7 separate regions of the Homo sapiens genome follow, and regions 1, 2, 3, 5, 6 and 7 are each linked to region 4. Evidence: fine-mapped expression QTL. A gene starts in region 4. Each other region holds a variant in brackets. All regions are shown on one strand. Distances are between the middles of the regions.

Region 1 (4,069 bases), 150 kb after region 4:
TGTGCCATGAATTTTGCTCATTCTTTTAACATTTATTTAGCATCTACTTTGTCCCAAGCCTTGTGTTAAGCTATAAGACTGATGCTAATGATGATAACAGTATCAATATCAGCATCACCACATAGTCTTTGAGAGTTTTGAGAGCTCTCTGCATGCTGGGTACTAAAAATATATGCCTTATGTATATTCCATACATTCTACCTATATTATCTCATCCTTCCAGTCCCCATGAAGTATAGGTACTATCTTCATTCCAGTTTTACAAATAAACTGAGACTTATCTAAGATCCCATAACTAGTAAATGGAGCTAAGATTCTTTTACAGCTAGTTTTTACTCAAGAGCCAAGCTTTTAACCACTTAACACTGAATTTTAAAAATTTTAAATTTTTAAATTTAAAACAATTTAATTTTTTAAATGCTTTATGGAAGGAGGGATTAGGCAGATTGAGGAGGAGAGTTTATAAACTGCAGCTCCCTGTCTGTATTATTTCTGATAAAAGGACCGTATGAGATGGTCACAAACTACCCTGTGGTTTGGACTTCAGAGGGCTTTAAAAGCACATCCATATTGGAAAGAGCGAGAAATCTGGGATGGAGAGAGGTGTAGAAGTCATCTGTGAGAGTGTCAGAAAGCCCATGAGGGGAGGGAGCAGTTTGGAAGGAGGGCATGGTCATAGATTTCACGGACAAATTCAACTTTTGTTAGAAAATGTGATTATGGGACAAAAATACGGTGCAAAAATACATTATTCATGCAGCACTTATCTCAATTACAATTTATTTATTAAATATGTATTTAATATTTGGTCCTTGTAAAATAGTATACCACCCTAGTCTCTGGTATGAAGCTACAGTTTCATTAGTGCCTAGCATATAATAGATACTCAATAAAATGTATGCTGAGTGAAAACTATTTATGAGCACTTAGTATTGTACATATATACTTTGAGCATTTCAGTAGTTTCATTAAATGAATTTGTGGGTTTTATGAAGTTTTTACACTTTGGCCATATGTCTAGCACCCAAAAATTTATTTTTTTACATTATATTCTTTTAAAGATAAAATACATCCTAATTATATAATTACTCACTGAATTACCAATCTGCAGTCTCTGTTATAAATTTAAGACTTGTTTAATTGTTTTACCCATGAGATTGAAATGGCTTTCCACCTTGTAAATTATGTATGTCTATTTGGTGGATTTTAATGGAAAGCTTAATTAGCTATTTCTAAAAACAGTTTAATTAGTTGCTCAAGAGACTACGCTCTCATTTCATTGGTTTGGAGGTAGTTTTATTGATTTGTTTTTATTTAAAGATCAGGAAAAGCCAGTGCAAAATTAACAAAAACAAAAAGGCATGCTACTCAGTAACTCTGTTTGAAGCCCTGATATATTATCTGACAAAAAACTGCATGTATCTAAATGAGATCAACATATCACTTTACCTCCTATCCCCCACCATCAAAATAATGGAAAAGTTTTTTTTTAATGCCGAGGTTAATCACCAAGGCTGACCTTACTTCTCTGTATGTTGTAAACCAATTGTCAGGCTTAGAACTGAATTAAGAGTGGTCATTTTCAGTTGTGAGTGTTTCTGTTTGCTGATGATTCTGGGTCTTTGTGACAGCTGAGCCTTACTTAGGGTTAAGAGTCAGCCTGTTATATCCCTAGGTCTCAGGCAAGCACAGTAGAGTAGAGAGAGGATAGGGAAGTCAGAAGGCCTGGTTTCCATCTTGGCTGCTTTGCTTACTATCTGCCCTGAACAAACACCTTAACATCAGTGAATTTGCCTTTTGAAAAACAAGAATAGGAAGTTACAATGAAATAGTATATATGACATATCACTTTGTGGAATGTAAAGCTCTAAGTGCTACTGATTTGGGGACAGTGTAAAAGTGTGCCTGGATTTCTTTTTAGCCGGGTTGGCAGAAGACTACAGTAATTAAAATTATTGTGAAGTAGAATTAGTACCGGATTATTAAACCAGTTACCTCACAGATTACTTCTTGATATGCCACCTGGTTATAGAATCAGGCCTAGGCCTGGAAGAGGTTTCTGAGTCCTCC[C/T]TTGGGCACCCAAGCCTGTTCTCCTGAAACTATGTTTTCCCTGCTAGTTGTCAAGGATATGCTAAACCTAAAGGTGAATATGACATATCTTCCTAGAGCGTTAGTTTTACTCAGTAGTAATGGACTGAAAATATTTTTGTATTAAATAAGCTTAGGTACATTCTGAGGAGCTTGGAGAGCCACTCCTGGATCTATGCACATCCCTAGTCACTGTTGGTTGCTATTAGGGGCATTTTAGTGGACAAGGTAGTAATGTACCAGTCTCAGCTGGCCAGATAGCCTCAAATAACATTTGAGCTTATCAACCTAAAATCTTCAATTGCTATCTTACTTTAACCTTTGTTTTTGTTTGTTTGGTTTTGTGTGTGTGTGTGTGTGTGTGTGTGTGTGTGTGTAGAGGAGGAAATCAGCATGGTAGATTTTTCTCAGTCCATTAAAATGTCACTGAAAGATATTAATCATCCTTTAATCTTTTCTTCTTCCTCACAAGTGCCACTTGTTGCAGTCTGACTTTCTGTGTCTTCCTTTCTAACATACTGACCACATGTGGACCTTGTACAGATGCCTCAAATCACTCTTAAGATACTGAGTTCCATATGGGACACAGTCTGTATAAAAATAAGAACCTAATGACTATCTCTTATATGAAGAGCATATAAGTTAGGGGTTGTTAAGTTTTCTATTAGTTTTATTAGGATCCTTTGAACTAACAGGAATTTCATAAATGAAATGCTATGGACATGATATAAAAAGTTTGTTTTAGAAAATGCCCAAAAGCAAGCTACTTTTACTTTTCAAACATCATTATCTTATAAAACGTGCAATAAGTATAGCAGAGTCATTACAAAGAAAATTAAATGTATGGCAGGACAGTGGACAATTAACACATCTGTGATTTATGCCCATGCTTGTACTTCTTCCCAGGGTAATTGTTTATAAACGTTAAATCTTTTGTCTTCAGGCCACTGTTGCCATTTTCAAAATAAAAGCAAATTTTCAAAAGTATGTTTGAAGATCACAAATCTGCTTTATACCATGAATCAATATATATCTCTATTGAGGCTTAAAATGAATATTTTAAATAAATTACAATTGATATATTCTAATCAAACTGTGGTTTATTTTTGCCATAGAAAGGAAATTAGCTTTTCTAACTGAAGTTTAAAGAAGTCTGTAACAGGCCCTTTTTAAAATAACCAAATCACTTAGGCTTCATCCCAGCCTAATCAACAGAAGTCACTAAAGGAATGAGAAAACTAAAAATACAACCTTTAGCTTTTGTTTTGATATACTAGATTGCCTCCATTAAATTAGTGAGTATAGAGTGTTTGCTGAGATGCAATAACTTGAAATAACCTCATATAGCAGTTTAAAATCTGAAAACACTCCTAATAATATCAATCTGAGTCTGCCTTTTAGTTGTATTTTTTATATGTATATTATATCCAAAAGCTTTTTGAAAAAGTGAAAATGTTTATGATTCAAGAATTTTGCACTAGATTTAAAGTTCCTTATTGTTGACAAAGTGTTAGACCTTCTCTGATTTCACCTTCTCTATTGCCACAGAACAATAATAGTGTTTCTTTAAGTCTTGCAGGTAATAGGTGTCAAAAATTGGGTAAAAATTGACAAAAATAAAAATGTAATGGCACATTTCCCCAAGTATCCCCTCAGATTCATGGGGGTTGGGGGGAAGATCAAGAGGACCTTCTCATGAAGCCCAGTTTCAGCTTTTGATTAGGAAGAGCCTAGGAAGAATGTTGTTATACAACCATCATTCCTGGTAACCAAACATTAGATAGTGTTAGATTAGAACATTTTATTCTTATATAATTTCGTTTATATTTATATATTGTTGCATAATTCAGAATAAGGACATGTTCCGTTTATAGTATAGGTTGTTACCAATACATCAGGACCACAATCTGCCACCCTCCAAGAATTTATAAGTGAAAAAATAAGACTGTATCTTATGAATTAACTTTAAGATCACCTAAGA
Region 2 (4,069 bases), 52 kb after region 4:
TTCTATAGATTTTTAGGTGGTGTTTGGTTACATGAATAAGTTCTTTAGTGGTGATTTCTGAGAATTTGGTGCACCTATCACCCGAGCATTGTACACTGTACCCAGTGGGTAGTCTTTTATTCCTCTCCCCGTCCATCCTTTCCCCTCACTCCCCAAAGTCCATTGTATCATTCTTATGCCTTTGTGTCCTCATAGCTTAACTCCCTCCTGTAAGTGAGAACATATGACGTTTGGTTTTCCATTCCTGAGTTACTTCACTTAAAATAATGGTCTCCAATTCCATCTGGGTAAGTTCACCTGAACTGCTGCAAATGCCATTATTTCATTCTGTTTTATGGCTGAGTTGTATTCCATGGTGTGTATATATATATGTCTATCTATTTATCTCTATATATCTATATCTATATAGATATATATATATATCAATTATATATATATATATAGATATAGATATATAGAGATATATAGACATAGATATATAGAGATATATAGATCTATATTAGATCTATAGATCTATAGATCTATATATATAGATATATAGATGTATATACCGCATTTTCTTTATCCACTTGTTGATTGATGGGCATTTGGGCTGGTTCCATATCTTTGCATTTGTGAATTGTGCTGCTATAAACATGCGTGTGCAAGTGTCTTTTTCATATAATGACTTCTTTTCTTCTGGGTAGATACCCAGGAGTGGAATTACTGGATCAAATGGTAGATCTACTTTTAGTTCTTTAAGGAATCTCCACACGGTTTTCCATAGTGATTGTACTAGTTTACATTCCCACCAACAGTGTAAAAGTATTCCCTTTCACCACATCCACACCATTTATTATTTTTTGATTTTTTAATTATGGCCACTCTTGTAGGAGTGAGGTGTTAACATATTGGGGTTTTGATTTGCATTTCCCTGATAATTAGTGATGTTGAACATTTTTTCATGTTTGTTGACTATTTGTATATCATCTTTTAAAAATTGTTTATTCATGTCCTTAGCCCACTTTTTGATGGGATTGCTTGTTTTGTTCTTGCTGATTTGTTTGAGTTCCTTGTAGATTCTGGATATTAGTCCTTTGTCGGATGTATAGATTGTGAAGATTTCTCCTATTCTGTGGGTTGTCTGTTTGCTTTGCTGATTATTTCTTTTGCTATGAAGAAACTTTTTCATTTAATTAAGTTCCATCTATTTATCTTTGCTTTTGTTCCGTTTGCTTTTGGGTTCTTGGTCATGAAGTCTTTGCCTAAGCCAGTATCTAGAAGGGGTTTTCCAATGTTATCTTCTAGAATTTTTATGATTTCAGGTCTTAAATTTAAGTCTTTGATCCATCTTGAGTTGATTTTTGTATAGGGTGAGAAACGAGGATCCACTTTTGTTCTTCTACATGTGGCTTGCCAATTTTCCCAGCACCATTTGTTGAATTAGGGTATCCTTTCCCCACTTAATGTTTTTGTTTGCTTTGTTGAAGGTCAGTTGGCTGTAAGTATTTGGCTTTATTTCTGGATTCTCTATTCTGTTTCACTGGTCCATATCCTTATTTTGATACCAGTACTATGCTGTTTTGGTAACTATGGCCTTATAGTATAGTTTGAAACTGGGTAATGTAATGCCTTCAGATTTGTTCTTTTTGCATAGTCTTGCTATGGCTGTGCAGGCTCTCTTTTGGTTCCATATGAATTTTAGGATTGTGTTTTCTAGTTCTGTGAAGAATAATGGTGGTATTTTGATGGGAGTTGCATTGAATTTGCAGATTACTTTTGGTAGTATGGTCATTTTCACAATATTGATGCTATGCATCCGTGAGCATGGGATGTGTTTCCATTTGTTTGTTTCATCTATGATTTCTTTCAGTAGTGTTTTGCAGTTTTCCTTGCAGAGGTCTTTCACCTCCTTGGTTATGTGTATTCCTAAGTTTTTTT[G/T]GTTTTTGTTTTTGTTTTTTGTTTGTTTTTTGCAGCTTTTGTATAAGAGATTGAGTTCTTGACTTGATTCTCAGCTTGGTCACAGTTGGTGTATAGCAGAGCTACTGATTTGTGTACATTAACTTTGGAAACTTTGCTGAATTCATTTACCAGTTCTAGGAGCTTTTTGGATGAGTATTTAGGGTTTTCTAGGTGTGCGATCATGTCATCAGCAAACAACAACAGTTTGACTTACCAATTTGGATGCCCATTATTTCTTTCTCTTGAAGCAGACATATTTGAACACTCTATGGGGTGCCAAGCAATTTCCACATGATTTAAAATTTCCATGTTATGTTCTTATGCCCACTATTAGCAGTCTTGCTGTAACCCTTTTTCTCAAAGTATTTGTGTGGTTTATGATAACACATTATAAATGAAGTGTGATATTGCAGTTTAAAGGTTGCAGATTGGAGGCTGAATGTCTTATGTCTATGACCATTTTACCTGAGCTACTTGTTTAGTCTTCTCAATAAACTTTCCAGGGATTTTTTTTTTTTTTTTGCTTCCTTGGAGATCAAAATTTTTGGATCAGATTGCCTAATGGGTTCATGTTGGTTTCCAGCAGAGCCAGGTGATGTGGCTGGCCATACCTTTCTATACCAAAAAATGTTTCTGCAGTCGTGGCTATATAGTCTTGCAGGCAGAGCTTTTGACTGGCAAAAATTAGTCCCCAGCTATGCTTTACTGATGAGAAGCCACACAGCGTAGCCAGAAGCTACACTGGCCCCTTCTTCTTTCTCTGATAACTCCACGTCCGTCATGTGTTTGTATTTCCATCTCTTTCCACTTCCTATTTATACTGTCTCCTACATCTGCACTCAGGCAACATGAGGGGAAATGGACTTGAAGAGCAGATGTTCACCTCATGTTCGTTGTGGTTCCCTAGATACACTCTCTTCCATTGAAGTGTTTCTCATTTCCTGGTTTTGATTGTCCAGGATGTGTGAGGACTGAGATCTGAACCTTGCTGTTCCTTCTTTCTTCATGTTAGTAAAACCATGTACATTGGAATCCCCCAAATGTAACGGGGGAAAATAATAGAAATACTTAACTTTTGCGGTGATTAAAATGATTAATCTGGTGAATTTGACTGAAAAAGAAAAATTCAATAATTTTAGGGATCTTTCAGTGAAATAATCATTAAGCCCAAAGAAACAAAGCCTTTATTGACTATTACTTCAGTGATAGTAAGAAATGAGTACCAGCAGTAAAAGTTAACCTTGATGTTTTTATGTAATTAGCAATTGAATAAATACAGTAACTTTATTTAAACATCTTTGTAAAATTACTCCAACTAAGTAAGGACCAAGACTAAAAAAAAACCCTTGAATGCCCCTTAGTGCCTAGCACAATACCTAGAACAAATAGATCTCAACAGATATATATTAAATGAGTTAATGATTAAAATGTCTCATTTAAAATTTAAATATTCAGTAATGTTAATTTGATGTTTTTTCTTTCAGATACAGATGAATATAGACCTCCTGTTTGGAAATCTTACTGTAAGTCTACAAATAATTGTGTGGGTTATAGTGCTTTATAAGTAATATAAAAATATGGGATTATTAGATAGAAATACTCATTCCATTTTGTACCCATTGTTGAAAAATTAATTTAAACAAGGTTTGGGAGTAGCATAGAAATAATTGTGGTTAAGTAAGTGTTTACACAAAGTCTGTACAGTATATGGTTTTCCGTCTGGAATGCATTTCATCCCTCTGAGCTTATATGAATTCCATGTAGTGAAACTTGAGACCACTTGTTCAGAGTGGCTAATGAAGCTAATACAAGGAGACACTGAGAATTCAAACAGTCTAATTATTTTCAGGTCCTGATTCTTTATGTGAAGAAAGGAATATTTAAATGACAATAATTCAGGAGGCTATGTTGATAGAAAGAATAAGTGAAAAGAGGCAAAAAAAGGTGATCTAACTTTTAAATAATTACTTTCCCAAAACATAAGGGAGATACTTGATTCCATGCTGCTCTTTAAACTGCGTTAGGATATTTCTTTTTAAACATCTAGGGTTTTAGTTCTTTATTTTCCTTTCCTTGTTTTCTAGAGAATATTATTTCACCAAGTAAAGGATATTTCAGATTTTAAAAG
Region 3 (4,069 bases), 160 kb after region 4:
CTCAGTTAATGATGATTTTGGCATTGTTTTTATTTGTGATACAAATGTGTCTGAATACCTCTGTTGGAGATTTTATGAGAGGATTAGATCTGTGTTTCTGGTAAAAAGCTTTGGATATAAGAGGCATGTGCTGTTGCATCTGGATTGAGCAGATGGTTTGCATTTCTCATAGTTTCTGTCTTTTCTCCCCTGTTAATGAATTGACCATGATGAAAGGAGGATGGCTACCATGGGACTGTTGATGCTGCTGACACTAGCAGCTTCTCCTCACTTTTTGAGTATTTGCTTTCACCATGTATGCGTATGTGTAGTTTTTAATTATTGTGTTAATGTGGTTTATCAACTGTACTTGAATTTTCTTTCAAGGTGATATGTGTGTTGATTCAAGCTGTATGTAGATCTAGTCTGTATTTATAGCATGATATAAGGCCTTGAATTTCTGTCCTTTGCAATCTAATTCAGAGATTAAACAACGTGAGGTGGTGCATAAGTAGACCCAGTTACATTTAATAGGTAGATGCACTGGCATTTCTATAGTAACTTCCCAATAGTTAGACAACTTTGTGATGCGGTTCTTGAGACATGAATGTTCTTAGTTTAGACAAAGTATCATTAGGTTTTATTTTAGAAAGGGAATAATTTGGTTTCAAAATGTGATAAAGCTGGAAATCATGATCTTTCATTTATTTATTTATTCAACATTTATTCAGCACCTATAATGCACCAGGCTCTGAAATAGATAATTTCATTCCACATTTGCAATTTATTCTGATTTTTAACACCAGTATTTATTTTACTCAAACACTAAATACCAACACCCCCCCCCCCACCCATATGCTCTGCATTTTCCATAGTGAGGAATAGGTTTTTGTGATCTTCAGATCATTTTGGGATGAAGGAGAAATTACCTAATAAAATTATGTTTCTTAAATATGTGGGCTATGTAAAAATTGCTAATATTTTAAAATAAACTAAATAACGTTTTCTTCTTCCTCTTTAAACATATTAAGGACCTTACCTTTCAACCAATATCTTGATTTAAAATGAAATAGAGGCAACTTAGTAGATTAAATACCGGATAGAAAAGAGGTATCATATGTGTATCTAGCATTCACTACATCTTTCATTTAGGAACCTAAGCAATACATTCAGGCTTCTAGGCCTCAGTTTCTTTTTGCATGATATACAACCTGATCTAACAGGATTTTTATCAGGAAAATGACCCCAAATAAATCCTTTTGCCAATATGAAGTTATGTCAAAAAAGAAGTCTTTGGGTTACTAATAAAGAGGAAATTGTATGTACACTGTTTAGAAATAGCTGAGATCTTAAATATATCTCCAAAGATGTACTCTGATTTGTTCAGCAAAAACAGCAAAAACCTACTAAGAATGCCATTTGAGTGCTAGGTCAAGTTCATTATACATGCTTTTTATCAATATTGATTAAGAGCAACTAGGAGGTCTATTCAAGAATTTGCATAAACAAACTCTTTTTGTGTTTGTATCTTCCAGTTGTTTCTCAATTTTAACACATGGCTTTAATGAATAAATTCTACACAGCTGGAAAGTTCTGACTCTGCCATCAACTGTAACTCTTACCTTGGTATCTAAACTGCTTTAAAGATACTTGGGTGTTTTTTTTAAGCCTTAAAAAATGGAAAGCTTCTTCCTTCTCTGGAGCTGAAAAATAATGAAAACCAGCTTGGACTTGTTCTTAGAGTATTTATGCTCAAGAAAGAGTTCATTTTAGACAATGAGTTGCATTACATATTATTTAGAGTTGCTAATAAGGTCAGAAATCTCGGAATTGACTCTTTCCATTGAAGTTACTCTCTGTTATTTAAAAATGTTTCTGTGGGGTGGCACTATAAAAAATAAGAAAGGAGGAAAGTCATACTTGACTTCCAAGAACATC[C/G]CAGACTCTGTGGCAGGTGCAGTTCTCTCCCACACAGACGCTCGCTTAGAAGGTCACTGATTGTGATATACACATCTATGTATGTACAGTTCAGAAATTTGTGTGGGGAAAAACCGTAGCATTTCCATGACGATAATCATTCATGTATCCTTGTCATTATGGTGGTAAAAGTGTATTCTGTATAACCACGGGCCCACTCACCAAAGCCTCATTTCAAGGTGGTTTTCTTTTTTGCTTCTTGAACTGCCTTGTTATGTAATACTGCTCTGTGGAATCGAACAGCTGTCAAACCTTATTTCAGGGAGTGAAGCCAAGAATGCCTTCTACCTTTGGTGAAAGCACTCACTGAGGTGAAAGCCAAATAAACCAACTGGACCTAACTTCAGCCTACAGACAGGCGTTTGTTTTTGGGGTTTGGGGTTTTTTTAGTAGAATAAAACAGGAAGGCTTCCCTTTTGCTATGTTATGTAACATGGTCTCTTTTTTTTTTTTTCTATTGTTACTTATAAGGATTTGAGAAAGCATCTATCACAAGAAGGATAGTTATATCCCTTAGGGAGGTTATTTTACAGATAAATGCACCAAATCCTCTAAAAACTATTACACTATAAGTTATCTAAATCAATTAGAAAATAATTGTAATTGTCCCCTGGATCAACCTCTTATTTTAAGAGCTACCTCATCCTAATACAACATACAACACACACACACACACACAGAGAAAGAGAGAGAACAAAACAAACTCTAACATTAAAAATAAAACTCAGGCACCCTTCCAGCAATGATTGTGCCATGCATTCTGAGGCTTTCTGGGTAAAATGATAAATAAGATCCAGCCTTTGCCCTCAGGAGCTTGCTTATTATATGCACCACCTTGGGTCAATTGCTTAATCTCTCTCTACATCGGAAAAATTGAGTTCCCAGTACATGTAGATACATGGTAGCCACTATTTTTGTTACTACAAATACCCCTAAGTGGGTTTTTTTTTTTTTCTGAATCTATACTGACATTTATTTATACTTAAGGGTTCATCTGAATCCTCTTATTCCTGTCCAGTTGCAGAGATTATGATGTGATTGAAAACCTTAGCATGATCGTGGGGACTGTGCCTAGTTGTCAGGCAGAGTTAGATGTTGCATAAGAATAGCTACATTTGGCCAGGCACAGTGGCTCATGCCTGTAATCCCAGCACTTTGGGAGGCCGAGGTGGGCAGATCGAAAGGTCAGGAGATTGAGAACATCTTAGCCAATATGGGGAAACCCTGTCTCTACTAAAAATACAAAATTAGCCGGGTGTGGTGGCACGTGACTGTAGTCCCAGCTCCTCTGGAGGCTGAGGCAGGACAATCGCTTGAACCCAGGAGGCAGAGGTTGCAGTGAGCCGAGATCACATCACTGAACTCCAGCCTGGGCAACAACAGCAAAACTCCGTCTCAAAAATAAATAAATAAATAAATAAATAATAAAAGCTACATTTTTCATGCACTACAGAATGCAGTGAAATCCTCTATATTTATTTTACTCTTTTCAAATTAAACTGTTAAATGTTTCATCTGGTTTGTTGCTTAATTCAGATAGCTCTATAAAATAAAATCAAGAGCAGATACAATATTATAATAACGACAGAAGCTAGGCTACTTAGGCAAATTAAGTAATTAAAAGAAAACAACATTAAGAATTATAGGGAGTAGATACTAAAAATATGAGTTTAATTTTTTAAGGTAGTCTTGAATTAGTTGTTGATTTTCATTTCAGGTACTTGCAGTCTGCATGTAAATGAAAGATATAAGATATTGTATTAATAGATTTAGTGTTGCCAAGATAACAGGCAAACAGTGAATCCTGAAATGTGAATTGATATTGCAATTAAAATAACACTGTAACATGAACCTTATAATAGTTAATAAAATTACTGATTCAAGACCTACTAGGAAAAAGAGATCATACTGAACCCAGCAATCCTAGCCAACAGACTGGACACTGTGCTGTCTGGTGAACTGAAGGGCGGCAGTGGCCGACACTCTTGCTGAGGGTAGTCTTTCCTTTCCTCCCGAGGACGTGGGCAAATCCAAGCCCCCTTTGGTCTTCATTTGGTTCACATTTATAATAAAATTAATACAAAATGAATGAACAAATAATAATTTTAATATA
Region 4 (4,069 bases):
TTCTATTCTGAAGGAAAATATTTTCCTTTAAATTATAAAGGCAAAAACTTTCTGAGATTACAAAAAACACTTCCAGGGGCTCACCTAAGGTCCCTGAATAGCCCATAATCCCCTTGAAATTATGTGAAAAATTTCCGGTGAATGTGTGTATGTATGCAAGCACTTTTCTAAGAGGAGGGACAGTATTTTCATTAGAGCCTCAAAAGGAAATTTGGTCCAAAAATGTTGAAGACCACTAGTTGAAACAGTAAATGGAGTCTTCGGTTTCTGATTTATTTGGCTGCAGAGCAGATTAGCAGCAATCTTTATATGGTTATAAAATCTATCCCACAAAGCTTTCTTGAGTTTCTCATTTATTTTCATGAGCTGTGTGTTTGTAATTTTTTATGAGCAGAAAGGTTGTTCAAAATCAAGAGTCCATTTTCATGAAAGATTTTAAATTCTGGGGATTTTAAAGATGTATTTTGATTAGTGGCTAAAGAGAGCCATTTTACATCACAAAATTCCAAACATATAGCATCTTAAACACTTGCCCATTCATGTTGAATCATTTTAATATTTCTTTCTTCCTGAGTTAACTGACTTGAAACAAAAGGCTTGGCTCCTCCTTCCAACCTGCTTTTCTTCTGATGCTTAAGTCTGCTTTGAAATAATGATGGTGAATTAACTGTGGTTCCATTGGAAGTACTGTAGTAATCTCCCACTTTATCAGGATTCGATCTCTAAGATACATTAAATACAAGATATTTCTATAATATTCTTAAAGAATTATTTGAAAATGGGAGAGAAGACACTAGGGAACCTGAGGAACTAAGAGGAAAGACGCCTGTAGAAAGAAAGGAGAACCAAAGAGAAGATCTACATGATCAGATACCAAAATAGTATCAAATCCCTAAGCAGAGAAACAAGAAAAAAGAAGGAATTTCTTAAACAGGGAACACATATAGCAACTAGAGAAGAATGACTTTTTGAATACATTAAACGACAACGACGAAAAACATATAACCCAGCTTTTCAAGAACATCTTTTGGCTGACAATCTCAAGGCGTTGTATGGCTCCTCATGGCAGAGACAGAGGTGAGGAGACAACATCACAGAAAGGAGGACGTTGCCAGTGATTATCAGATAAATACAAGAAGCTCAGGGGAACAATCTTTTGTGGCAAATAAGTGCCAGTCAGTGACACATGCTGATTTTTTTTTCCTTGAGACAATATCAAAGAGGTATAATGTAAAGGGAAGAAAATCAGGTGTAAGCATTGGTCTTTTAACAAATTATCTTAGGTAATCTCAGATGCTTTTTAAGCGACTCCTTTTCCTAATGTGTGTCAATTTCATCAGAACTACTAGCAGCTCCTAAGTCCAAACGGAGAGGAATGCAGCTTTCAGTGCCTCTGTTCCTACCAGAGCCCTGCAGCTTCAGGTCACCGGCTCCAGCCACAGTGAGCCTGGAGGGCGCCAGGAGAAGAAATATGTTCTCACACGCACCAGGTCCCCAGATGACCCTGCCTGGGCGCTGCGTTCACTCAGCATCCTCCTGTGACTCTTCCTCTTTCGAGTAACAGCGTTTTTCTCCTCTCTGCGCCTCCTCAAATTCCATTCAAGAAAAAACCTGGGCTTTCAGCTAAAACGCACACCGGCCCCGCTCCATCCCGCTCCGGGCGGCCGCCTCCAGGGGGGCGCTGGTGGCTCCTCGCAGCCGCGGGAATGAGGGCGCACCCTCTTACCCCCGCGCGCGCCCGTTGCCATGGGAACGCACTCGACCGGGAAGCCCGAGGGAGAGGCGGGAGGCAGCGGCGCGGCCGAGCTCGTGGGAGACGCTATCGCAAGATGGCGTCTGCGAGGCCGCGGGATGCGGAGTGAGCGCGCCCCGCCGGGGGCTGTGCGAGGCTGCTGCTGCTCTCCCCGTCGCCGCCGCCGCCGCCGCCAGTGCGGCGCCGCCTCTCCGCCAGCCACTGCGCCGCGGCCAAGCCTCCTGCCTCGCAGGTACCTCCTCCCGCGCGCACGCTCCGCGCCTGATGGCAGCGACAAGTGCCGGCTCGCGGAGAGCTAGCGGGGCTCCCTGGGCCCGGTGCGCCCGACAATAACGCGTGAATAACTTTTTCTTGCAGCGGTCCCCCGCGTCCCGGCCTGCAGCCTCCCCGGGCGCCGGCGCCCCCAGCACGCCCCATCGGGCACCCCACTCTCTCCGAGGTGTGGGTGCGGCGGGCTGATGAGGTGATCCCTAGCCCGCCTGGGAGGAGCGCCTGGACTCGCGGGCGGCGGCGAGCGCCTTTACAATGGCCCTGACCCTGTTTGGTAAGTGCAGCCGTCTCCCCGCGCCGCCGCAGGTGGGCCGCGTCCCGGGGCTCGGGGGCGGGGGCCTGGGGGGCCTGGGCGCCCGGGGAGGGGGCGCGGCGCGTGGGGTCGGGGCGGGCCGGGGCCGCAGAGTTGGGGCGCCCGGGGCGCCGGCTTGCTCCCTCGCGCCTCTCCCATTGTTTCCTCTCCCGGCAGGGCCGATGGGCGTGTGCTCCCCTGGCCAATTCTCGGCTGGGAGGCTCAGAGGTCCTGGGTGTTTTGCAAACGCACAAAGATTCTCTAAGATGCCAACTTGGGAGTGAAGTTAACTGGTTGTTTTCAAACCTGCCTTTCCCGTCGGTAAATAAATCCTTGGAAAGTTTATTTATTTTGAACGAGGTATCTGTGAGTCCCCAGCCTCCTTGGAATTGCCAAATGCATGTGTTGCTTCCTGTTGGACTATTGGGGAATTTTTTTTTTGGACTCAGTATATTCCGTTGGAAATAAGTATGATTTGTGAACTGAATATGGGTTAAAATTGAAAATGTTTGCACTAACGAATGAGAGCAGACAGAATAAAGTTGGTTACCAGAAGATAACTGTAATCTCAGGAGACTGAGTATTCATTAAGAATGAAATGTTATTTTTGTGGTGTAATTACTGCAGCACTGTTGCTTTTGGTGGTTAAGACTTCAAGCTGTTTTTTTCTCAGTCTGCAATGACAATGGGTTGGGAAAAAGGACTGAAAAGATACATTCTTTCCTTTTACAAAACGACTATGGTACATACGTACCTGACTTTAAGAAAACTCAATATGTGAACATTAGACGTTCAAAGTATTCAGCTTTTTTGAAGAAGCAAAGTACAATGATATGTAATTGATAGCTACGAGAACAGCCTAAGTAAGTTATTCACAATATCAAGTTTCCAGTTCAGTTTTAATTATGTCATTTGATCAAACACGTTAGAGGTGTTACATACCTCAAATGCTTTTTGAGGTAAATACTTCCCAGTGAATTAAGCTGCTAGAATCAAAGTGTTACTTTTATTTAACTATCTTATTTTATAAATTAAACTTAGACCCAGAGAGGTTGTTTCCCAAAGTCACATGGCTCTTTTGTGGCAAAACTGAGCCTAGAATTCACTTCACCAGGCTTCAGTCTGGGACTGTGTTTACTGTGCCCAAGTGCATTACTAGAAGTGCCATTTCTTACTTGGTGATGATCCTCCATAGGTACTTTAAAAAAGTGTCTTCTTTTTCTGAAAAATAATAAAATTCTCGCTGTTTCTCAGTACCTTGTATCTAAGCATTATTTAATAGCAGCATTTTCCTTAAATGTGGACCTTTTTGGTACAAACATTTTCTTTCCTAAAGAGATATTTGGCATTTTCAAGGTGTGGTTTCAGAAGTAAGGTTTACAAGTCAACTTTTCAAATACTCGCATTCCTGACGAATAAAAAAGATAAATTGGGGTGAAAAATGCTCTTTTAAAAGGATTTCTAAATTCTAAATCTTTAACCACTGTGGTGAAGATGAGGAAGGGAAAAGCATGGAATGTGGCCTATAGAAGAAAGTATAAGAAATCACTCCCAGCCTTCAAAATGAATAATGTATCTTTAAAATTTTAAAGTCTACTTATGGGAAAATAGAATTCACTTCCCAAAATCCAGTTTGTTACAGTGTGAACGTTTCTGTGTTATAAAACAAAGCACTCTTGAGTGCAGAGGCTATTTGTTAAGTAGTGATAGAGCAGCAGCTGTTTTTAAAAGTGGTTGTACACCACTCATCAGTC
Region 5 (4,069 bases), 24 kb before region 4:
CAAAGCCTAATGTGAGTTCCCTGCATGACAGTGGAAGAGGGGGTGATTAATCAAGAAGACAGTTCTTCATGGGTCGGGATGGGAACCTGGCAGCTCCGGGAGTGCTTTTCCTTTAGGGACACACAAAACACTTCAGCACTGAGGAACAGAATTTCTGTGATTCTGAGACTGGATGCACAATTGACACCAGGGCTCTTAGGGGTCTCCACCTCATCCTTAGGGCCAAGACAGCAGACAGACAGCTGCTAAAGCTGTGGCCCTGTGAAGCTCTTCTTGGCCTGTGGGTCACTCTTCCTCCCTCTTTCCCACAACCGTCTTCTATGGACTATGTCAGCAGAGAGGCTGCCTGGGCAGCTCTGCTGTCCTTGCTGTGTCTCTTACGGCCTTTGACCACAGCTTCTCTCTTGCCCAACACTTGTACGTACCACCTGATTGGCTGCATTTAATCACTGCTTCCTAGGTTTCTCATGCTTTCCTTCTCTAGTTTAAAAGTCCAGCACTTTTTTCTACCTGCCCCTTTTGGTTTCATGTTAGGGTTTCCTGTGGCTGTGCCCCACAACTCAGAGATGTACCCAGGATGATGTCAAACAAGTTGAGGTTATTGCTTGGAGATTGACTTACTGCTAAACAATGTCAATATATGTCTTTGGGGTTGCTACACACAGATGTCCTTGGCTGTCAGTATCATGGAATCTCTCATCATGGCAGTGATGCTATGGGCAAGGCCCTTGGATCTCACCACCTTTATTCAAGAGACAAGCTGAACCCGACCAACTTTCTTAGAAATATAATTTAGCAGTGTTGTTTTTTTCATTAGGTTTAATTAAATTCAGTAAAATGTATGTATCTTAAGTGTAAAGCTCAGAGAATTTTTATGGACATGTGTCCCCATATAATCATCCCCCAGATCCAGGTATACACACGTAAATGAAGTCTGACAGCATGAGTCAATTGGAGCTAATTTCTGCATTCAGGGGGAAAACAGCTAAGACAGTGATTCTCAAACTTTCATGTGCTTCCGGATCACCTAGAGGGCTTATTGAAACACAGATTGCTATTCCCAGGTAATATTAATGCTTCTTGTTCAGGGACCACATTTAGGGAATCCCAGGGCTCAGGACTGCTAGGAAGCGCTAAACTGTCTCCAATTCATAGACATGCAAAGAAGGAAACCCCATTAGCAAAATAATTTTATTTATTAATTTTTCTTTTTAAAATATGCAATGTGTCATGAATTTGTGTGTCATCCTTCCATAGGGGCCATGCTAATCTTCTTTGTATTGTTCCAATTTTTTAGTATATGTGCTGCCCAAGAGAACACAATTTTAGTAAAAATGAATTGGCCATATACTTAACTGAGGATCTTTAAATGCTAGCCTTCTATTTTCTGACCCAGAATTTTCTGAGTGGGTCTTGGTTGCCAGCAAAGGAGTCCACAAAGTTATAAGCATAGACTGCATCAGAACAATGCCCTTTTGAGACTACTTTCCAATGAATTAATCAGTGCTGAGTACTTGAAGAGCTTGAAAGGATCAATATGCTTTTAAAGTCCGGAAGACTCATCATACCCTTTTTACAGTCAGAGCAGGGGTATTGGTAAATTGCTCTGAGATCCTCAGAGGGAGATTAACCAGCCAGCACTTATTGTTAGGGCATTTAAAGCATTTTATTTTAAGTAATACATTTAATAAATGTAAAACTAGCCACCTAAAACATGTACTTTTTTGTTTTATATTCATTCTGTGAACATAGAAAGCTTCATAATTTTCCAGATTTTCCTACCATGATCATATATTGCTCTTATAATCAGAAAAAACAAACCCCAAAACAAACAAACAAAAATAATCCAGGGCAACTCCCCCCTCTTGCTGCCTCTATTTAGTTAAACAAGGTGTATTTAATTAAGATTTTCTATATTACAAGATATTTACTCTTTTTTTTTTGAGATGGAGTCTCGCTCTGCCACCCAGGCTGGAGTGCAATGGCATGATCTCAGCTCACTGCAACCTCCTTCTCCCAGGTTCAAGCGATTCTCCTGCCTCAGCCTCCCGAGTAGCTGAGATTATAGGTGCCTGCCACCACACCCGGCTAATTTTTGTGTTTTTAGAGACGGGGTTTCACCATGTTGGCCAGGCTGGTCTTGAACTCCTGACCTCAGGTGATCTCTGCACCTCGGCCTCTCAAAATGTTGGGATTATGGGCATAAGCCACTGAGCACAGCCTGATATTTACTTTTTTTTCCCTACAAACACACATGTATATCAAAGATTTCATGGGCTGTTTTTCACCACTATTTAAATCTACAACGTACAAGAAATAGATTTTTTGAACAATAGCCTTTTAATGTATCTTCTTATATGTATATTTTTTCTTTTTAAAAAAGTAGCATTAGAGGTGGGGCAGCTTTTGAGAACAAAGTTCTTTTTTTAAAGAAAAAGTAAGCCATTTTCACTGTGGAGTAAATAAACAGAGGAATTCGGATCC[A/G]CCTGATTTAATTCCTTTGTGTTTACTTAGTGTGGGCTCATCTAGCCAGTGGTTGTTCTGTGAGCAAATAGTCTGGCAACACTTTCTTTAGAAAGAAAATGCGCTTGCAGGCGGATTTGCACCATCTACTCTGTTTCCTGTGCCTCCAAGGCTGACAGCAAGTGACCAAAATGAAAAACGATGACCCAGTGGTTTCACAAGTCTTCATCTTACACAGGGGCAGGACCACGGCTTCTTCCACGTCCTTCCATGGCTATGGCCACAGGCATCAGCAATACGGAAAGTAGACTCAACTTTGACCACGTGGGCACAATCCTGAAAGTGAGACCAGTTGGGAACAATCTGTCCTGGGAAACAGTCATGCCTCTTTCCACTCCCACGGGACTTTAGGGCAAAAGCCAACAGGCAGCTGCTTCTACTTTTTAAAAACTGCAATTCATCGGTCTAGTGTTTGGTTATCCTCCTTTAAACCTAAACAAAAATCTCAAAAGAGTCATGTGTTTTTAGAATAGGAAATGAAACAGAGCATTCCTGAATGATCCACCTATCTCCCATTTAGAATTCCTTGTTCATGTGTCCCTGAAATGACATTTACCTGGCTCCTCTTGGGGCCAGTGGACTGTGGCCCTCCAGGCAGCTGCCGCTGGGAAAGAGCATGTCTCCCACTGGGCTGGAGTCTGCACCAGGCCTTTCCTCCCAGGGCTTCAGGAGCAAGTCAGGTGAAGTCCCATCCCTCTTCTACAGGACGGTACTTCTGGTATCCGAAGACTGTTATTTCATCTGCTTTGCATCTTGTGTTATTTCAGAACAAGCCTTTTAAAGGCTCTCAACTGTTCTTCAGATTACATGGTTGTCTCTCTTCTCATCCTCCTCCAGGGCTTTCCAGCCCATCAAAGTGCTGAGTACATACTCTATTTTGATGGGTGCTGAGGAGAGAACTCAAAAATTATAATCTTCCATAATTAAGACACACTACTTCTAGCAATGGAGTCTCATCTTTGAAAGTTTTATGATAGCCTTGCCATTTTACCAGCTCAAAATGAACTTGACATCAGCTAATCTCATGTCAACTTCCTAACTCAGAGTCTTTTAAAATTTTTTTTATTTTTTCATATTTTCTTTTTTCAAAGCAAGATATGGAGTGGGAAGACTTGGAGTCCTTAATCCATGAACTTCTGTTAAACTGTCTAATGTCCAGGTATTTGAGCCTGAATGTAGACTTTATATTTGCCTGGTTAAATGGTGAAGAAAAAAACTGCTTCTCAGGGAAGTTAGGCATTTCATGTAGTAACTGAGTAACTGAGGTTTTAGCATATCATTCATTGATAGCATATCAACACATTTTCCATCTCAACTCTATCATTCAAAAATTATTAGCATGGGCCAGGCACGGTGGCTCATGTCTGTAATCCCAGCACTTTGGGAGGCCGAGACAGGCAGATCACCTAAGGTCTGGAGTTCAAGACCAGCCTGACCAACATGGAGAAACCCCGTCTCCACTAAAAGTACAAAATTAGCCTGGCGTGGTGGCACATGCCTATAATCCCAGCTACTCTGGAGGCTGAGGCAGGAGAATCGCTTGAAC
Region 6 (4,069 bases), 220 kb after region 4:
AGAATGAAATCCGGGCCAGGCGTGGTGGCTCACGCCTGTAATCCCAGCACTTTGGGAGGCGGAGGCGGGCGGATCAAGATGTCAGGAGATCGAGGGCATCCTGGCTAACACAGTGAAACCCGGTCTCTACTAAAAATACAAAAAATTAGCCGGGCGTGGTGGTGGGCGCCTGTAGTCCCAGCCACTCGGGAGGCTGAGGCAGGAGAATGGCGTGAACCCGGGAGGCGGAGCTTGCAGTGAGCCGAGATCGCGTCACTGCACTCCAGCCTGGGCGACAGAGCGAGACTCTGTCTCAAAAAAAAAAAAATAAAAATAAAAATAAAAAACTCCTGTCATTTGCAGCAACATGGATGAAACTGGAGGACATTATGTTAAGTAAAATAACATGTTACTCATGTGTGGGAGCTAAAAAAAACCGTGAATCTCATAGAAATAGAGAGAGAATGGTGGTTACCAGAGGCTGGGAAGGGATGGAGGATGACGAGACGTTGGTTAATGGGGACAAAAATACTGTTAGATAGAAGGAGTAAGTTGTAGTATTCGATAGTATAGCAGGGAAGTTATAGTTAATCATTTATTGTCTATGTCAAAATAGCTAGAAGAATTGTGACTCTCCCAACTCAAAAATGTTTGAAGTGATAGATTTCCCAATCAGCTGACTTGATAATTACAAATTGTATACAGGTATCAAGATATTATACGTACCCCCATATACATGTACAACTATTATACATCAATTTCGTAAAAGAAAGACCTTAGTGAAATGGGAAAAGTTCACTTGTCGCCCTTGCAGGGCGTGCGACACGGGGACCGGCTTGCTTCTTCAGTGCCCCATTACTCAGGCCTCTAGGGAGCATACAGACGCGAAGGCTACCGGGCTCCAACCCCACGGCAGTGTCGAGGGGTGGATGTTTACAGCTCCTGAAGCCCCAGTGGGCGTGTGCTACCCTGCGCTCTTTTAGTTTTGTCGTCTATAGGCAGCTTGTATTAACCAGCTCAATTAGACCCTCTGCCTTGTTGCAACAACAGGGGGCTTTCTGTATCCTGGGTGCTTGCTTTGCTGTAACTGAAGAATCGGATCACACCTGGGCTTGGAGAATGAGTGCAAGATTTTGAGTAAAGGCAGCTCTCAGCAGATGGGGGAAGTCAGAAGGTGATGGAGTGGGAAGGCTTCCCCCCTGGAGTCGACAGCTCAGCGGCCTGGGCTCTCATCCGACTGCCACAGCATCATTCTGCTTCTGCCGGTCAGTGGCCTAGTTCCTCCGCCATTGTGCTCCTCTCCACGTCCTGCCATCTGTGTGTCTGCCTGCTAGGGCCTCAGGATTTTTATAGGCACAGGATGGGGGCGTGGCAGGCCAGGGTGGTCTTGGGAAATGCAGCATTTGAGCAGGAAAACAAAAATGCCTGTCCTCATCTAGGCTCGTAGGGGTGGAGCCCTAGCCAGGGGCCACGCCCTTCCCTCCCCCCCCCCCCCCGCCCCCGCTTCCGTATCACTTAAAGGGACCACGCTCTTCCCTTCGGTATCATTAGGAAGCTCAACAGGAAGGGAGGTGGGGTTATCATAGGCTAGCCATTCCAAAATACTATTTGAAAATGGGACTGAGACCGTAGTTTGGAAAGAAGTACTTGTTCTGAATGATCAAAGGGGAAGATGATCAAAGGGGAAGATGACACAAACTCTATAAAAGGGTCAGATGTCTGTTCAAGGAAATGAAGCATTAAGGATCTGATTATTCTTTAGGTTTTTAACTGATCAGGACTTGCAGTTCTTGTGTTACCAAGGGCCTGGTTTTCTGGTCAGCAGCACACAATTGTTTTAAATCCCAACCACTCATCCTAGTAATCCAAGCCCCTGAGTAGCCACAGGGGTCTTGCATTTCCCCGGGGCAATGGCTT[G/A]AGGGAGAGTCTCCTGCCCCTCTATGATTTTCAGGAAGAACTGATTCCCTGTCCCAGGTTAGATGGGTCTCCAGGAATATCCCTTAGTGACTAGAACAGAGCCCTCAGCCAGCCATCCTGGAGCTTCAAGCACCCTACTGCAGTGGGTGGTACATCTGGGCCCCATATGTTCGCAGGGAGGGGCTGAAGAGCCCAGGCCTACATTGCCAGGTCACCCACCCATTTGATGTGTGGTCACAGTGGAATCTGGTTGCCATGGGGATGCGAGGTTTTCTACTCAGGCTGTTTGAGAAGCAAATTTTTCCATTGTGTATATGTAAGCATACTTCAACATCTTTAAATTCCTTTTCTTTTTCAAATAGCATTCAGGGTGGATTCATACATTTAAAGAAAAATTCTAAAAGGCAATTTCCCAGAAAACAGGCTTTTGGAGGGTAACCAGGGTTCAGCCTTTGTTGAGGGATGAGGATAGGAAGAAGGGGCAGGGGCCACTTTTCTGAAAGCACCCAGGTCTACCCGCGCTGTTTAACATCTATCTCTGTGCTGCTGCCAGAGGCTGGCCCAACAGTAGCAGAAGCTCCAGGGATAGGCCAAAGAAAGCATTTTTTTCTTCTTCAACCTTCAACAAGGAAAGTTTACCTTGTTTTCTTTCTTGGTATTCAGTAAATGATTCCACAGCCCAGGCCTCTCTCCTCTATCTCAACACACAGGAACAATTTTTTGAGCTTCTGTGGACTTCTTTTTGGAATATGGTAAAATATACATAAAATTACCATTGTAGCCATTTTTAAATGTACAATTCAGTGGTATTAATTATATTTACAGTGTTGTGCCATCCATCTACAGAACTTTATCATCATGACAAATAGAAACTGTACCTGTGAAACAATAACTCTCAGCTGGGCGTGGTGGCTCATGCCCCTAATCCCAGCAGTTTGGGAGGATGAGGCGGGTGGATTACTTGAAGTCAGGAGTTCAAGACCAGCCATGGCCAACATGGTAAAACCCGTCTCTACTAAAAATACAAAAATTAGCTGGGGGTGGCCACACACGCCTGTAATCCCAGCTACTCAGGCTGAGGCAGGAGAATTGCTTGAACCCGGGGGGCGGAGGTCGCAGTGAGCTGAGATCGTGCCACTGCCCTCCAGGATAAGTGACAGAGCAAGACTCTGTCTCAAAAAAAAAAAAAAAAACTCTCAAGGGGCATGATAGCTACCTGCAGACCCAGCACTTTGGGAGGCTGAGCCAGGCAGATCACCGCTTGAGCTCAGGAGTTCAAGACCAGCCTGGGAAGCTTGGCAAAACCCAGTCTTTACAAAAATTACAAAGATTAGCCAGGTATGGTGGTGCATGCCTGTAGTCCCAGCTATTCGGGAGGCTGAAGTGGGAGAATCACCCTAGCCCAGGAGGTCAAGACCGCAGTGAGCAGAGATTGTGCCACTGCACTGCAGTCTGGGTAATAGAGTGAGATTCTGTCTCAAAGAAGCAAACCAACGACACACACACAATAACTATGCCCTTCTTTTCCTAGCCCCCGCTAACTACTGTTCTATTTTCAGTCTCTGTGAATTTGCTTATTCTAGGTACCTGATAGAAATGGAATAATTCTATAATATTGTCCCTTGGCGACTGGCTTATTTCCCTTGGCACGGGTTCAAGGTGCATCCATGTTGTAGCAGTCTCAATGCTTCATTCTTTTTAAGGCTGAATCATATTCCATTATATAGATGTGCTGCATTTTGTTTATCCATTCATCTGTGGATGGGCACTTGGGTTTTTCCACCTCTGGCTATGGTGAATAAGGCTATGGTGCACAAGGGTCTGTTTGAGTCCCTGCTTTCAATTCTCTTGGATATATAACCGAAGTAGAATCGCTGGATTGTAAGGTAATTCTATGATTCACTTTGTAAGGAACTACCAAACTATTTTCCACAGCAAGCCCGGGAGACTTCTGATTAATGCGTTTCCTGGAGCAGCTGAGGATTGTTTTCCAATAGAGTTTGGCAATGAGAACAATGGCATCTATTTTTTAATTCTCTTATTCACTTTCTATTTTTCTCTGAAGGTTTCTGTATGTCTTCTTTGTTCAAGATTCTCCTATTGACTGTTAGATATAACATATCTGGGGGCATCACTGAATTGATAATTGATTGATTGGTGGACAAAAACTGGC
Region 7 (4,069 bases), 180 kb after region 4:
TGTTTTAAACAGAAATTGGGCCTTTTTGATGATTCTGATGTGACCCATCAATAAGTATCTCCTTTAATGTCTGTGATCCTACTCATAGTCACAGAAGGTAAATTATCTGCAAAATTCCTAACAGGACCCAAGACATACTCTATATGGGCACTCATGCCTTTTCATGTCATAGTACTGTAGAAATAGCATAGTACATAGAAATGCCAGTATTTGTATAGATTAGGGTGCCTGCACCTGAGGGGACATTGGAAAACTCCATTATATAGTTTTCGAAAGTAAGTTACAGAATATTGGTCTGATTTATCATTCCTAAAACAAAGAAGAAATCAAGCTCTGAAAAAAATGTTAACTGCTTGTCAGTTTCACTCAACCAAGGTTCTTTTAAATGCAGCCATGTTGGCGCTTCATTACTAACCATGGGCTGGGTGCAGTGGCTCACACCTGTAATCCCAGCACTTTGGGAGGCCAAGGCAGGCAGATGCTTGAGCTCAGAAGTTCAAGACTAGCCTGAGCAACATGGTAAAACCCTGTCTCTACAAAAAATACAAAAATTATCTGGGTGTGGTCGTGTGTGCCTGTAGTCCCAGCTACTCAGGAGGCTGAGGTGGGAGGATCACTTGAGGGAGGCCTCAGTGAGCTGTGATACACCACTGCACTCCAGCCTGGGCAACAGTGAGACCCCATTTCTCTTTCTCTCATATATATATATATATAGAATATGTGGCTTGTATATTAGTGCTTTGATATGAAGCAGTCTTCTCATCCGTGTGTTTCCCCTTTCCTGACTTTGCCCCTCTTTTTTTTTTTCAGGTGCATACATTCAGAGGGCCACACTGGTGTGAATACTGTGCCAACTTTATGTGGGGTCTCATTGCTCAGGGAGTGAAATGTGCAGGTAAGAGCTCTTGTCTTGTCTCTGGATTGAGTCAGTTGTGAAGTTATAAGAGGTGAGGTAGAAGGAGACTTGTTGTTATGCATATCCAGTAGGCTGGATCCTGGTTTGGTCTTATGCACATGCAGTAGGCCAGATTCTCAGGCAGCCACTTTGGAAATTTGATATTTTATCTGCTCTTAACCTTCTGGCACTTGATGGACAGCACACTAGGGATCTGGCATTAGTCCACTGAAAAGAGAGAAGTCAGCTTGTTCAAAAAGTCTGATAAAAGGAGATAAAAGTAAGGCAGTTATATTTAATACTTGCCTTTGATGTTGCAGTAACTAAATTTATAAAAATGATTTTTTTAAAGCAATGTACAGGGACCTATGATTGTTGCCTTGGAAACTGAATTTTAAAGATAACTTGTTAAGCTGGATTGTCCTTACTAAATTTTTGTGAAATCAAATTGAAGCTTTAAAAATCTGTGAATTCATCTTCAAAGATGGTTACCAAATTCTGAAAAACCACTTAGTCACTAATATTTTCTGTGTGATGTTTTGAAATCAAATACATCAAATACTTTTTGTAAAATATGACCATGAATATTTAGATACAAATTTAGAAACCAAAAGATTTACACATACAGAAATAGCCAACACAAGGATGTATTTGAGATACTTTGTGAAATAAAGTACTTATGTATATCACGTGAAATCCATTTGTATAGAGCAACTATACTGAATACTGGCCATTTATCCAAACTACTTTAAATTCTTTTTTTTTTTTTCTGAGACAGAGTCTCACTCTGTCTCCCAGGCTGGAGTGCAGTAGCGCGATCTCGGCTCACTGCAAGCTCCGCCTCCCAGGTTCAGGCCATTCTCCTGCCTCAGCCTCCCGAGTAGCTGGGACTACAGGTGCCCGCCACCACACCCAGCTAATTTTTTGTATTTTTAGTAGAGACGGGGTTTCACCATGTTAGCCAGGATGGTCTCGATCTCCTGACCTCGTGATCCACCCGCCTCAGCCTCCCAAAGTGCTGGGATTACAGGCGTGAGCCACCGCACCCAGCCCAAACTACTCTAAATTCTGACATAGGCTTAAAAATAATCATGTAAATTTTAAATGTCTATTATTTGGTCATAAAAGTTTCCTTCTGCCATTTAATTTGTAAAACTAAAAAATATCTTCTTACATGTCTTTTAGCATGAAGCTTTACACTAAAAAATATACTAAGTAAAGTATTTCAAAATGGTAACTATAGTAACTGTCAGATTTATCGCTATAAACATCATTTCTTTTGTGGCATGATTTTTAAATGGAATATTTTTGTTGTCCATTATGTGCAGAAATTTCTGGGGTCTGATTCTTATTTCTAAATTGCATTTCCTTTGAATAGCAAGATATAGTATGTATTGCATGGAAATGTTCCAAGTCGCTCTTCTTTCAGTTATTATTCCCTTAGTATCACTAAAAT[G/A]TAATAAGGTTCCAGGCATATATCACCATTCAAGGACCTTCCTGCCACAGGAAGTGGGATAAGAATCCTACACGTGTGGACTTGGAGCTGTGCAAAGGTGTTCGTCAGGGAGCGCCTCAGCTCAGAGTCGAAGCTCAGAGTGAATGAGGAAAGCCTTGCTGTGGCTGGTGGTTATCCAGAGTTGGGATGAAGAAGGCCATGGTTGTGCCTTTGCACTGGAGGGAAACAGTAGAATGGAAAGTGTTGATAAAGTGGAGGTATTGAGGCAGTGTGCATTGCAGTTTCACAAAGGCAGATGGAATACTCTTTCCAAAGCACAAATTGCCTGCTCGAGAACAATGGTCTCAATGAGCCCAGTTTGCCTTTATGAGACAGTCTTGTCCAGCTGATACTCTGCAATAGTTTTTTAAATGTTTTATGACTGTCACAAACTTAAAAGCTTTTCTTTCATGAGTAAGGGTGTATATTGTTTCCATTTTGAAAAAGTGAAGCCCATCTACATAAGAATTCTTAACTATTAATAGAGAATAGGTACAGCACCTATGAATAATCTTTGGGAATACGCTACAACCCCAATCATGTTGGAAAGAAATGTTTTGGAACATTTATCATGTCAATAATATGGGGGAAAGGAGAAAGAATTCATCCCCATCTCCACAGCCACCCACATTAATAGCCTCTACCTCTTATTGTGAGTAAAGGTCAGGAATTGAAAGAAAAGCCTTGAGGAGATTTTTCATTTTATGTTATATCTTGTCCTTAAAAGCATTATATTCAGTGTGATTTGAACCATATTAATGTGTAATACAAGCACAAGTCAACTCATTTTGAAAACACGGAGGGTTGGAATTTGAATTCATTCTGTTTTCTATGACAACTAATTATATTTGGATTGACAGTGAGATTCTTAGGTCTGAAGTGGCTTTGAGGCTCATCTGGCCTTTGACTATCTAAATCCAAACGCAAAGAATTGAGAATTTAAAGAGAGAGTGCACACTAGCTGTGATAAGCTGAAAAATAGCTCCCCAGAGATGTCCGCTTCTAATTCCCAGAACAACATTCCTTGTTCCTTTCATGGCACGAAGAATGTTGCAGATGTCATTTAAATTAAGGATATTGAGATGGGGAGTTTTGGGTTGCTATGACAAAATACCACAGACTGGGTAATTTGTAAATAACAGAAATTTATTTCTCACAGTTCTGGAGGCCAGGAAGTCCAAGATCAAGCTGGCAGCAGGTTCAGTGTCTGGTAAGGGTCCAACTCTGCTTCCAAGATGGCGCCTGGAAAGCTATGTCCTCCAGAGGGGAGGTGCCTACAATGCAGTGTCCTCATGATTTGGCAGAAGAGTATAAAAGGGGCCAACTCCCTCTGTCAAGCCCCTTTATAAGAGCGCCTAATCCCATTCACAGGGGAGGCGCCCTCATAAGCTAATCATCTCTGAAAGGTCCCTTCTCTTAATACTCTCACATTAGCAACACCTGAATTTTTGAGGGGACACTTTCAAACCACAGCAGGGAAAGTACCCTAGATTGTCAAGGGAGGCCTAGTATAATCACAATCATAATGGCCCTTATAAAAGGGAGGCGAGAGGTTGATAGAGAAAGATGATATAAGGACAGAAGCAGAGGTCAGAGGGAAGAGAAGATGCTATGCTGCTGGCTTTGAAGACAGAGGAAGGAGCCAGAAGCCAAGGAATGCAGGTGGTCTTTGGAAACTG

Alleles and levels. Alleles are on the strand shown, and positions count from the first base shown. SD is a standard deviation of normalised expression in the study named. Not every link is listed here.
For the expression in tibial artery of the gene that starts at base 1,810 in region 4, allele G in region 5 goes with a higher level than allele A (large effect, 0.82 SD a copy in GTEx).

Evidence for each region. PIP is the estimated chance that this variant, and not a neighbour inherited with it, causes the effect.
Region 1: its variant is fine-mapped to the expression of CHN1 in whole blood (TOPMed, PIP above 0.99).
Region 2: its variant is fine-mapped to the expression of CHN1 in whole blood (INTERVAL, PIP 0.99).
Region 3: its variant is fine-mapped to the expression of CHN1 in whole blood (TOPMed, PIP 0.97).
Region 5: its variant is fine-mapped to the expression of CHN1 in tibial artery (GTEx, PIP above 0.99). The same link has a PIP of 0.9 or more in aorta, coronary artery, esophagus mucosa, ileum, stomach and subcutaneous fat.
Region 6: its variant is fine-mapped to the expression of CHN1 in whole blood (TOPMed, PIP above 0.99).
Region 7: its variant is fine-mapped to the expression of CHN1 in whole blood (TOPMed, PIP above 0.99).

The regions. Positions count from the first base shown.
Region 1 is chr2:174,857,376-174,861,444 of GRCh38, reverse strand. All of the region lies in intron 6 of CHN1 (chimerin 1), which reads left to right. Among named protein-coding and RNA genes, the nearest start is that of CHRNA1, 95 kb to the right of the region's middle. The variant C/T (reference allele first, on the strand shown) is at 2,071.
Region 2 is chr2:174,951,559-174,955,627 of GRCh38, reverse strand. It overlaps CHN1 (chimerin 1), which reads left to right. Exons shown (of 13, transcript NM_001822.7): 2 at 3,426-3,464. Among named protein-coding and RNA genes, the nearest start is that of CHN1, 52 kb to the left of the region's middle. The variant G/T (reference allele first, on the strand shown) is at 1,921.
Region 3 is chr2:174,842,541-174,846,609 of GRCh38, reverse strand. All of the region lies in intron 7 of CHN1 (chimerin 1), which reads left to right. Among named protein-coding and RNA genes, the nearest start is that of CHRNA1, 80 kb to the right of the region's middle. The variant C/G (reference allele first, on the strand shown) is at 1,918.
Region 4 is chr2:175,003,122-175,007,190 of GRCh38, reverse strand. It overlaps CHN1 (chimerin 1), which reads left to right and starts at 1,810. Exons shown (of 13, transcript NM_001822.7): 1 at 1,810-2,297. The coding sequence starts at 2,279. RefSeq lists a silencer at 2,050-2,109 and an enhancer at 2,094-2,640.
Region 5 is chr2:175,027,021-175,031,089 of GRCh38, reverse strand. It overlaps the pseudogene RNU6-1290P. Among named protein-coding and RNA genes, the nearest start is that of CHN1, 24 kb to the right of the region's middle. The variant A/G (reference allele first, on the strand shown) is at 2,485.
Region 6 is chr2:174,786,017-174,790,085 of GRCh38, reverse strand. LOC124907908 (a long non-coding RNA gene) reads left to right here and starts at 2,136. Exons shown (of 2, transcript XR_007087311.1): 1 at 2,136-2,212. RefSeq lists enhancers at 1,251-1,545, 1,958-2,773. The variant G/A (reference allele first, on the strand shown) is at 1,897.
Region 7 is chr2:174,821,260-174,825,328 of GRCh38, reverse strand. CHN1 (chimerin 1) reads left to right here. Exons shown (of 13, transcript NM_001822.7): 8 at 811-895. Among named protein-coding and RNA genes, the nearest start is that of CHRNA1, 59 kb to the right of the region's middle. The variant G/A (reference allele first, on the strand shown) is at 2,352.